2 separate regions of the Homo sapiens genome follow, and region 2 is reported to be linked to region 1. The links are microRNA targets in miRTarBase. Many come from high-throughput screens and were not tested one by one. Region 1 holds a microRNA gene; the other region holds the end of a gene's coding sequence.

Evidence for each region. Region 1 holds the annotated microRNA hsa-miR-378g (ACUGGGCUUGGAGUCAGAAG, at 2,844-2,863, opposite strand). A microRNA usually pairs through its seed, bases 2 to 8, with sites in the 3' UTR of a target mRNA and lowers its output. Matches are read on the target gene's strand: a 7mer-m8 pairs with bases 2 to 8, a 7mer-A1 pairs with bases 2 to 7 and ends in A, and an 8mer does both.
Region 2: miRTarBase lists MPPED1 as a target of hsa-miR-378g. Seed matches in the 3' UTR shown: 7mer-m8 at 1,424-1,430.

Annotation. Positions count from the first base shown.
Region 1 is chr1:94,743,037-94,747,432 of GRCh38, forward strand. MIR378G (microRNA 378g) reads right to left here and starts at 2,864; the gene lies at 2,824-2,864. All of the region lies in intron 1 of SLC44A3-AS1 (SLC44A3 antisense RNA 1), which reads right to left.
Region 2 is chr22:43,505,202-43,509,597 of GRCh38, forward strand. MPPED1 (metallophosphoesterase domain containing 1) reads left to right here. Exons shown (of 7, transcript NM_001044370.2): 7 at 297-2,647. The coding sequence ends at 415. Among named protein-coding and RNA genes, the nearest start is that of EFCAB6-AS1, 8.9 kb to the right of the region's middle.

The DNA of each region.
Region 1 (4,396 bases):
AACTATCCTTCTTGTTCACACCCATCTTTTCCCTCCTCAAGGTGGATGTCATTGCTAATATGATTGCACTGCTAAGGTCATCAAGAGGGCAGTTTTTACAGTGTCCCTATGAGATGGCAGGGACTTGCTCACCCATCACTCAGCAAACATCCACATGTCCATGACCAGCTACTGCCCCCCTCACACCTGGCCCCACATTGGGACCTGGCTCATTCTATCTTCATCACTACCAGCTATGGTCTGAATTTTTGTGTCCCCTTCCTCCACAGATTAATATGTTGAATCCTAATTACCAACTCGATAGTATTAGGAGATGGGACCTTTGAGAAGTGATTAGGTTATAAGGATGGAGCCCTCATGGACCGGATTAATGGAAAGAGAAGAAAAGAAAAGAAAAAAGAAAAGAAAAGAAAAGGAAAGAAAGGGGTCCAGAGAGCTGCCTTGCCCTTCTACTATGTGAGGACACAGCAAGAAGGCATCATCTATGATCCAGGAAGTGGGCCCTCACCAGACACCAAATCTGCTGGTGCTTTGATCTTGAACTTACCAGTCTTCAGAACTGTGAGCAACAAATTTCTGTTGTTTAAAAGCCACCCAGTTTAAGGTATGTTTGTTATAGTCGCCCAAACAGACCAAAATGCTCTCTCTTTCTAACCAAGGGGTAATGAGAGGCTGAGATCTGTATTCATTTTTAGGGGTAAATAATGGGGGCTCCACTTCAGTTTATAGCCTTAATTGTATGCTCTCTGGAGGAGGAGAAAATGGGGATGGGCAGAGATGTAGAATAGATATTGTACACACCCCACAAAAAAATAGCAGCCTTTGTTTTCCATTTGCTGTCTTCTCTCTGTCCTACCATCTGTCCTCAGAGAGAAGAGGCCTCACAGGCAAGAAGAACACGAGAACACAGATGCTCCCAGGGTCCCTGGAAAAATGCCATCAAAATCTAGTGTACATCTGTAACAAAGACAGTTTATTGTTCCAAGAGGCTGCATGTTTCACCTAATAAAGAGTCATATAAACATAAGGAAGCTCTGGCCTCAAGCTACAAATGCATTTGCTCACTGAGTGCCTGACTGGAGGACAGACTGTGCTTCCTGAACAAACCAGAACCATATAAAAACAATCCTCCCTGAGTACACAGGACCCAAAGTGATTTCTCAGGATGCTCATTTCCTTTCACAAGTAGTCCCAGGTAGTATGTCATGTCCAGAGCAGTCCTGGTACTCTCCTAGAACACCACAGCTCAACATCCTTTCGGTTCACTGTCCAGAGGCCTAGCATGCTCATTTCCTCTCTAAACCCCTTGACTCTCAGAAATGTCCCTAACACATTTACAGTTTACAAAGTATTTTCACATGTCATTTAATTCTTGCAAGTACTCTGTGAGATGACAGAGACTCAATCATTCATTTATTCAGCAAGCACTAATCAAGGGCTAGGTACCATGCCAGACCCTGGGGAGACAGAACAAGCTAAGATGTGCTGCCCACACTTGAGGAGCTCACAGAACACCAAGGGAAACAGGCAATGCCCCGGCCTAGCTGCCATGGCAGGAGGGCACCACAACTTAAGAGAGCACAGAGGGAGTCCATTCTGGCTCAGGAGAACCAGGGAGGTTTCCTGAGGAATATGGTCTCATTCCTGATGGGAGTCAGAGCTGAGCAGGCAAAGAAGGGGACCAAAGGAATGCCAGGCAAGCAGGAGGGCATTCAAGTTATAAAAGAGAAAGCGTGGCCCAAGTGTGGTGCTTTGAGCAGCTGAGTATGGCTTGAAGTAGAGTGTGAAGTGTGGGAGGGGAGGTGGACAGGAGATAAATCCAGAGAGGAACTCGGGGCCAGATCACAGGTGAGTATATTTCAGGACATGGTAAGGAAATTTGGATTTTTACCCTAGGGAAATAAATAGGTAATTGCTAAGGGTTTTAAGTAAGGCAGGTACATGAATGAGCTGTGCAGTTTAGAAAGAGTAATCAGAATGGGTAGGTGCAGTGGCTCACACCTGTAATCCCAGGACTTTGGGAGGCCAAGGCGGGCTGATCACTTGAGTTCAGGAGTTCAAGACCAGCCTGGCCAATATGGTGAAATCTCGTCTCTACTAGAAATACAAAAATTAGCCAGGCGTGGTAGCACACACCTGTAATCCCAGCTACTCAGGAGGCTGAGGCAGGATAATCACTTGAACCTGGAAGGAGGAGGTTGCAGTGAGCCAAGATTACATCACTGCACTCCAGCCTGGGGGATAGAGCGAGACTCCATCTCAAAAAAAAAAAAAAAGAGTAATCAGCCAGTGCAGATGCTGGACTGAGGGAATAAGCCAGGAAGATCCTGAGTGGTCCAGGAGAGAGAAGAGATTTTCATTCAGAGCAGTGGGAATGGGGATGGGGAGTAGGGATGGTTCAGGATATATTTAAGAGGACATACAGGACTTGTGACTGGATGACTGTGAATGGTGTAGGGGAAGCTGGGGCAAACATCCAGATTTCTGTTTGGGCCCATGAGTAGATGATGGTGCCATTCACCTAAGTAGGATGAGGAAGAGGAACAGGTTTGGGAAGAAAGTGAACGATTGATTGGGCATGCTGAGTTCTAGGGACATATAAATCCCAAACAGAGATGTTTGGGGAAGTTTGGGTTCAGGGCTCGGCAACTCAAGGGAGAGGTCTGGCTTGGTGATATGGATTTAGGGGACTCTGGCATAGTAGCTGTAGATGGTGTCACAGAAGTATGTGAGGTCTCCCAAAGGGAGGATGCAGAAGCCTGATGTCATTAGACAGATGAAGGGACTGAGGCTGCCTGAAGATCTCATAGCTGGTCCATGGCAGAGCTGGGCTGGAGCCAGGTCTTCTGACTCCAAGCCCAGTGCCCTATCTGCCACACAAAAGTCTAGCCAAGGACTCCTGGATATGAGCCTGGGCTGTACCTGGAAGCCAGCAGGTTTTACCTCTGTTGTTTCCTTGTTTTATCTAATAGGAAGTAGCCCTTGAGCAGTGGCCAAGAAGCCCTTCATCATGTTGCTCTTGGTAGGCTACAAGGGTGAGTGGAGGAATAGTCTAAATACCTACTGGGGAGATACCCTTGGGTGAGACAAGGCAGAAAATGCTCACACTTGCCACCATGTTCACCCTGTCATTCAATCCTTACATCTGCTCTTCCTGGGTCACTCACCTTCCTGCTTACTTCCCTAGACTCTGCTCACATCAGGTTCTTTGCTTCACCTCCCCTCTCCATCAAAATCTTCTTGTTTTAGTCCCATCCCACCTCCACTCTATAGTTCTCTGCTAGACTATGAGATAAAGCAAGTCCTGCTAAGATGGGTACTAATCAGTTAATGAGAAATCCATCCCATGGTACCCACTCCTTTTAACCAGAATTCTTGGAGACATGTAAGTAGCATTGCTAAAGGCAATAATTTGAAGCAATTTGGCCAATTATTGAGGAAAGGATAGGCATATAGGCAGGAGAGGAAGTAAGAGAGAAAGTTGGGGCCCGATCACCATCGGTATGTTTCATATTACATTAACATGTTTGGAGTTGAGTTCATTCAACATGGTGATGCAGTGGCCTGCTGGTTAAGGCCCTCCTTGTCATGACAGTTGACATTCTATTTCAACACCTGTAAACAATAGGTGTGCCCTTCTGTACACACACACCGTAAGCATCTCTTGTCTCCTCATCTGCAATACAACAGAACAGAGACAGGGTGATTTTTCAAATCAAGGCCACAGGTCCCAAATGTTTTTCTCAAATTCTGTTAGTGATCTCATTGGTAGAACCAGTGCCAGGCCGGGCTAGAAATCCAATCAGAAACAATGTTTACTAAGGGCTGAATTAAGAAGGAATCTCTTGGGTGAGGGAGGGTTTTTCTCCCTTGGCAAAATATGATTTGCTGTTTTCAAGTTAATGAAAAGAAGGGGGAAAACAAAAAATAACAACTGAAAGATCTTTTAAAGGAAGTACAAACTTGGACAGACCAAGGAACACTTATGAAACAGCCTGCCCTGCTGTCTGGTTCCAGCCTTGCAAGACTTAAGCCACAGTGACCCCAGGGTCACGGAAAGAAGCAGCCCGCTGGGGTTAGGGTTTGAGGAGGAGGAATGCTGTCCAGCACATGTGGGGCAGGGCGGCAGGTTTATCTCAAGGGCTCAAGATTCTACAGTAAGCCCCAGGGTATGTTGACTGCCTGTCTGGGTAGACATCGGGCCACCCAGTCCTCTAATGTGACTCTGGATGATGGGTTGGCCGCAGATGGTGAGGCGAGCCCAGCTGGCCTTACAGCTACAGACAGGAAATGCCAGAGCCCTGGGGATTGGGCATCATGGAGTTCATTAAATCACATGCCTTCCAGCTGTAAGGTTGTCCAGTCTCACTCCCATCAGTTGATGTCTGAATTCCCT
Region 2 (4,396 bases), not on the chromosome of region 1:
ATGGTGGTGAAGATGATGTCGATGATGATGACTCACTGCGTGCTTCTTATGTGCCAGGCACTGGGCCGAGCACAGTACATAGATAATTATCTCATATAATCCTCACAGCAGGCTTGGAAGTGGCATGTATCATTATCATCTCCATTTTACAGATGAAGGGACTGACCTCGAGAGTTTACCAGCTTGCCCCAAACACATTCAGCCCACAGGGGCTGAGTGCCCTATGACTGCCACACCCCCCTGGCCACCCTCACTACTCTGGCTGCTGGCCTGATGGGCATGTGCTTACTTTCCAGGGTATGGTGTCATGGCAGATGGGACGACCACCTATGTGAATGCGTCCGTATGCACTGTGAACTACCAGCCCGTGAACCCGCCCATAGTCATCGACCTCCCCACACCCCGGAACTCCTGACTGCTCCCCACTGCCCCTGCCCTGCCCGCCCGTGTCAGCTCCACAGGCCTGGCCCGGCCACTGTTCCTTCCATGCTGAGTTGCCTGGACGACCCATCTGGCTGCGGGGACTGGCCTAGCAGGCAGGTCAGGGCCTTGGAACGACTCTTTAGCCTTCTGTCACCTGGAGTTGGGACCCTGCGCATCCCCATCAGGGGTTCTGTGCTCATTTACTTTTTCTGCGTGTACATCCTGCGTGTACCTCGTTAAAGGACCTACTAAGCTCATGGCCCTGTCATGTTTGGGAAATGACTAAATCTTCATTCTTCTCCCTTGGACGCCCTCCTGGTTTGGGAAGCTGCTGCTCTTGAATGGGTTTTGGAAGTTACACAAAATCTCCCTCTAACCACGGGTCTGTGTGGCGGCATGCCCCTGGGTTGGGGTGGGTGGGAGGATTCGTGAGCTGCACACAGACAGTCCCTTTCTCTCCTCCCAAGTGAGGGAGGAGACAGGCCCAAGGCGGAGGCCCTCCGAGGGAGCATTTAGGGACATCTCAGGAATTCAGACCGCACCTGGCCAGGCCCACAGCTGTTTGCCTGGCATTGTTCCCCCCTTTTTCTTCCCATAGGCATTTTTGTTTACTTGAACAATGACCTGAGTGTCCTAGGCATTCACTCGGAGCCTGGATGATGGGGGCTGGTTCTACAGAATGAGCCACTGGCATTCGTGCCCAGGACCAGTGAGAGCGTTCCCAGTCATGGGGGGATGACCCTTGGTCCCACGGGGAACACACTGCTCTGTAGAATGCGGTAGCCTGGATGGAGGGTCTGCAGGCTTAGGCTGCAGCAGGCCTGCCATGGGTGTGAACCCATGTCCAGGCACGCACCGACACACATGCACGCACGCACCCCTCTTAATTGAACCAAGTGGGTCCTGTGTTTCTCTTTTCTGCCCCGTAGTGAGGTTCTGTTCCTTGGTGCGGCTTCCCTTGCACCGTTAGGATTCTGTCTGGCATGCCTGCAGCCGAGGAAGCCCAGGACCAGCCGGCCCTGTGAATTGGAGGGTGGCACAGGGACCGAGCGGGCCCCAGGCTCCAGCAGCCCCACCTTGGACAGCTTCTTTTTCTTCTTTGAATTAGGACTGGAGGGGGTGGGGCCAGGGCGGTGGTGGGAACCGGTAGGGCCTAGATGAGGGGCAGGCAGTCAGGCAGAAATGGGCAAGTTCAGGGTCAGATTCTGTCGTTATTTAATATTTTGTTCATCATGGACTTTTTCTGCATTTATTTTGATTTTTAACGTTGCATTAAAGTAGTATTATTTGTCCTGATTGGTGACTTTTTTTGCACCCCTTTCCGTTGTACATCTGAGAGAAGGGTGTCACTCCCTCACCCAGGTCCCAGCCCTGGGAACCAGCCTACCGTGAGCCCTTTTGCAGATATAGACTCATTTCATCCTCAGATGGTCCTTCAAGGTAGGTACTTTAGTCCCATTTTAGAGATGAGACGATTGAGGCCAGAGGGGTGTGGTAACTTGCCTGGGGGCTCACAGCACAAAAGGAGCCGAGGCAGGATCTGACCCTTGTTCTCTGGCCTCACTGCCCTCACTTTGCCATGACCCGAAGTTATGTCCCTACAAAGCAATGCATGGTCCAAGGCTCTTTTTATTGTATTTTTATTTTTAAGGGTCCTGTTCAAAACTGGTGTGAGCTCTGAGGAGTCCTGAACCCTGGGTGCAGCATCCTAGCATCCTGGGAGTCCTTTTCTGCCCACACTGAGCTGGGCTCCTCGAGGGGTGGGGCTGCTGTCCCTGGAAGCCTGGCAGCAGCACTGTATCGGGTTGGCTGAAGCTGAGCGCCGTGGGGTGCAGGGCTCCAGGAATCCCGTTTGGCTGAAGGGGTTCCTGTAGCCAGGGATGTTTATGAGGTCTCTCTGATGCCCCAGGCGCAGGACATGTGTGCGGGTGGAGAAAAGCAGGCCCTTTCAGTGCCAGCTCCACTCAATTTCTATGTGGACCAAGAACGATAAACTTAAAAAAATTTTTTTCCTAAGGTATCTTCAGAATATGGTGTATTTTTATGTGGAAAAGAAAAGTTATGAAGGCAGCTGTTACTTTAAGAGAAAATTCATTAAAAGTCCTCGAGGTATGAAGATGACGGCGTGCTTCTCAATCATTTTGGCATAACTTGATTGTGGCTGTAATTTTTTTTTTTTTTTTTGTCAAGCATGTCAGACAATAAAGTCTTTGTAAAAAGAGAAGTCCACGCGGCACCTCTTCCTTCCACATCTCTGGCTGTTGTCTGGGACACATGGTGGCAGCGTGGTGTCCTCTTGCAGAATGCTGAGGCCTGGACAGAGCTTGGATGCCAAAGACCTCCTGTGTGGCAGCAGTCGGTGTCCCTCTGCTTGCTTTAACCTCCCCTGGGGTGGGGGGATCCCAGAGGTGGTGGTGTGGGCAGTTCTGGGTCCTCTTTTGTACAAATACTTGGCTGCCTGGTCTCCCAAAACAGAACACCTCCAGAGGCCTTAGCGCTGGACTCTTCCTGGAAATGGCATGTTCAGCCCAGCCCCTGTGAAACACAGGGTCCAGACATTGCCCAGGAGAAACACTGGCAGGTACAACGACCCTAGTCTGAAAGCCCCCAAGCTGCAAAAGTTCTGTCATTTTTATCCATCTGTCCGTCCATCCCTCTATATACCATCCACCCCTCCTTCCAACATCCATCCATCCATCCATCCCCCATCCTTCCATCTATCCATCCCCCATCCCTCCATCTATCCATCCCCATCTATCCATCCATCCATCCATCCATCCATCCCCCATCCATCCATGCCCCATCTATCCATTCATCCATCCCCCCTCTGTCATCCATCCATCCCCCATCTGTCCATCCATCCATCCTTCCATCTATCCATCCCCCATCCATCTATCCATCCATCTCCCATCCATCCATCCATCCATCTCCCATCCATCCATCCCTCCCTCCACCCATCCATCCCCCATCTATCCATCCATCCCCCATCCATCCATCCCTCCCTCCATCCATCATCCATCCATCCCTCCCTCCATCTATCCATCATCCATGCATTCATCCATCCATCCCCCATCCTTCCATCCTTCCCTCCCTCCCTCTCTCTATCCATCCATCCCTCCATCTATTGATCCCCCATCCATCCATCCCCATCTATCCCTCCATCCATTCCCCATCTATCATCCATCCATCCCCCATCCCTCCATCCATCCATCCCCCATCTATCCATCCATCCCCTCATCCATCCATCCCCCATCTATCCATCCATCCATCATCCATCCCCCATCTATCATCCATCCATCCCCCATCCCTCCATCCCCATCTATCCATCCCTCCATCTATCCATCCCCCATCCATCCATCTATCCATCCATCCCCCATCCATCCATCCATCCATCCATCCTCCATCCATCCATCCGTCCCCCACCTATCCATCCATCCCCCATCCATCTATCCATCCCTCCCTCCACCCATCCCTCCCTCCATCCATTCGTCCTCCATCTATCCATCTAACCATCCATCCGCCATCCGTCCATCCCTCCCTCCCTCCGTCCATCATCCATCCATCCATCTCTCCCTCCATCCATCCATCCCCCATCCACCCATCCATCCCCCATCCATCCATCCATCCCTCCATCTATCCATCCCCCATCCATCCATCCTCCATCTATCCGTCCATCCATTCCCCATCTATCATCCATCCATCCCCCAACTGTCCATCCATCCATCCCTCCATCTGTCCATCCCCCCATCCACCCATCTATCCATCCATCCCCCATCTACCCATCCATCCCCCATCCATCTATCCATCCCTCCATCCATCCATCCCTCCCTCCGTCCATCCATACCCCAGCTATCCATCCATCCCCCATCCAGACATTTATCCATCCTTCATTCATCCTTCCATCCATCCATTCACCCCCATCTATCCATCCATCTCTCATCCATCTCTCCATCCTTTCGTTCATCCCCCCATC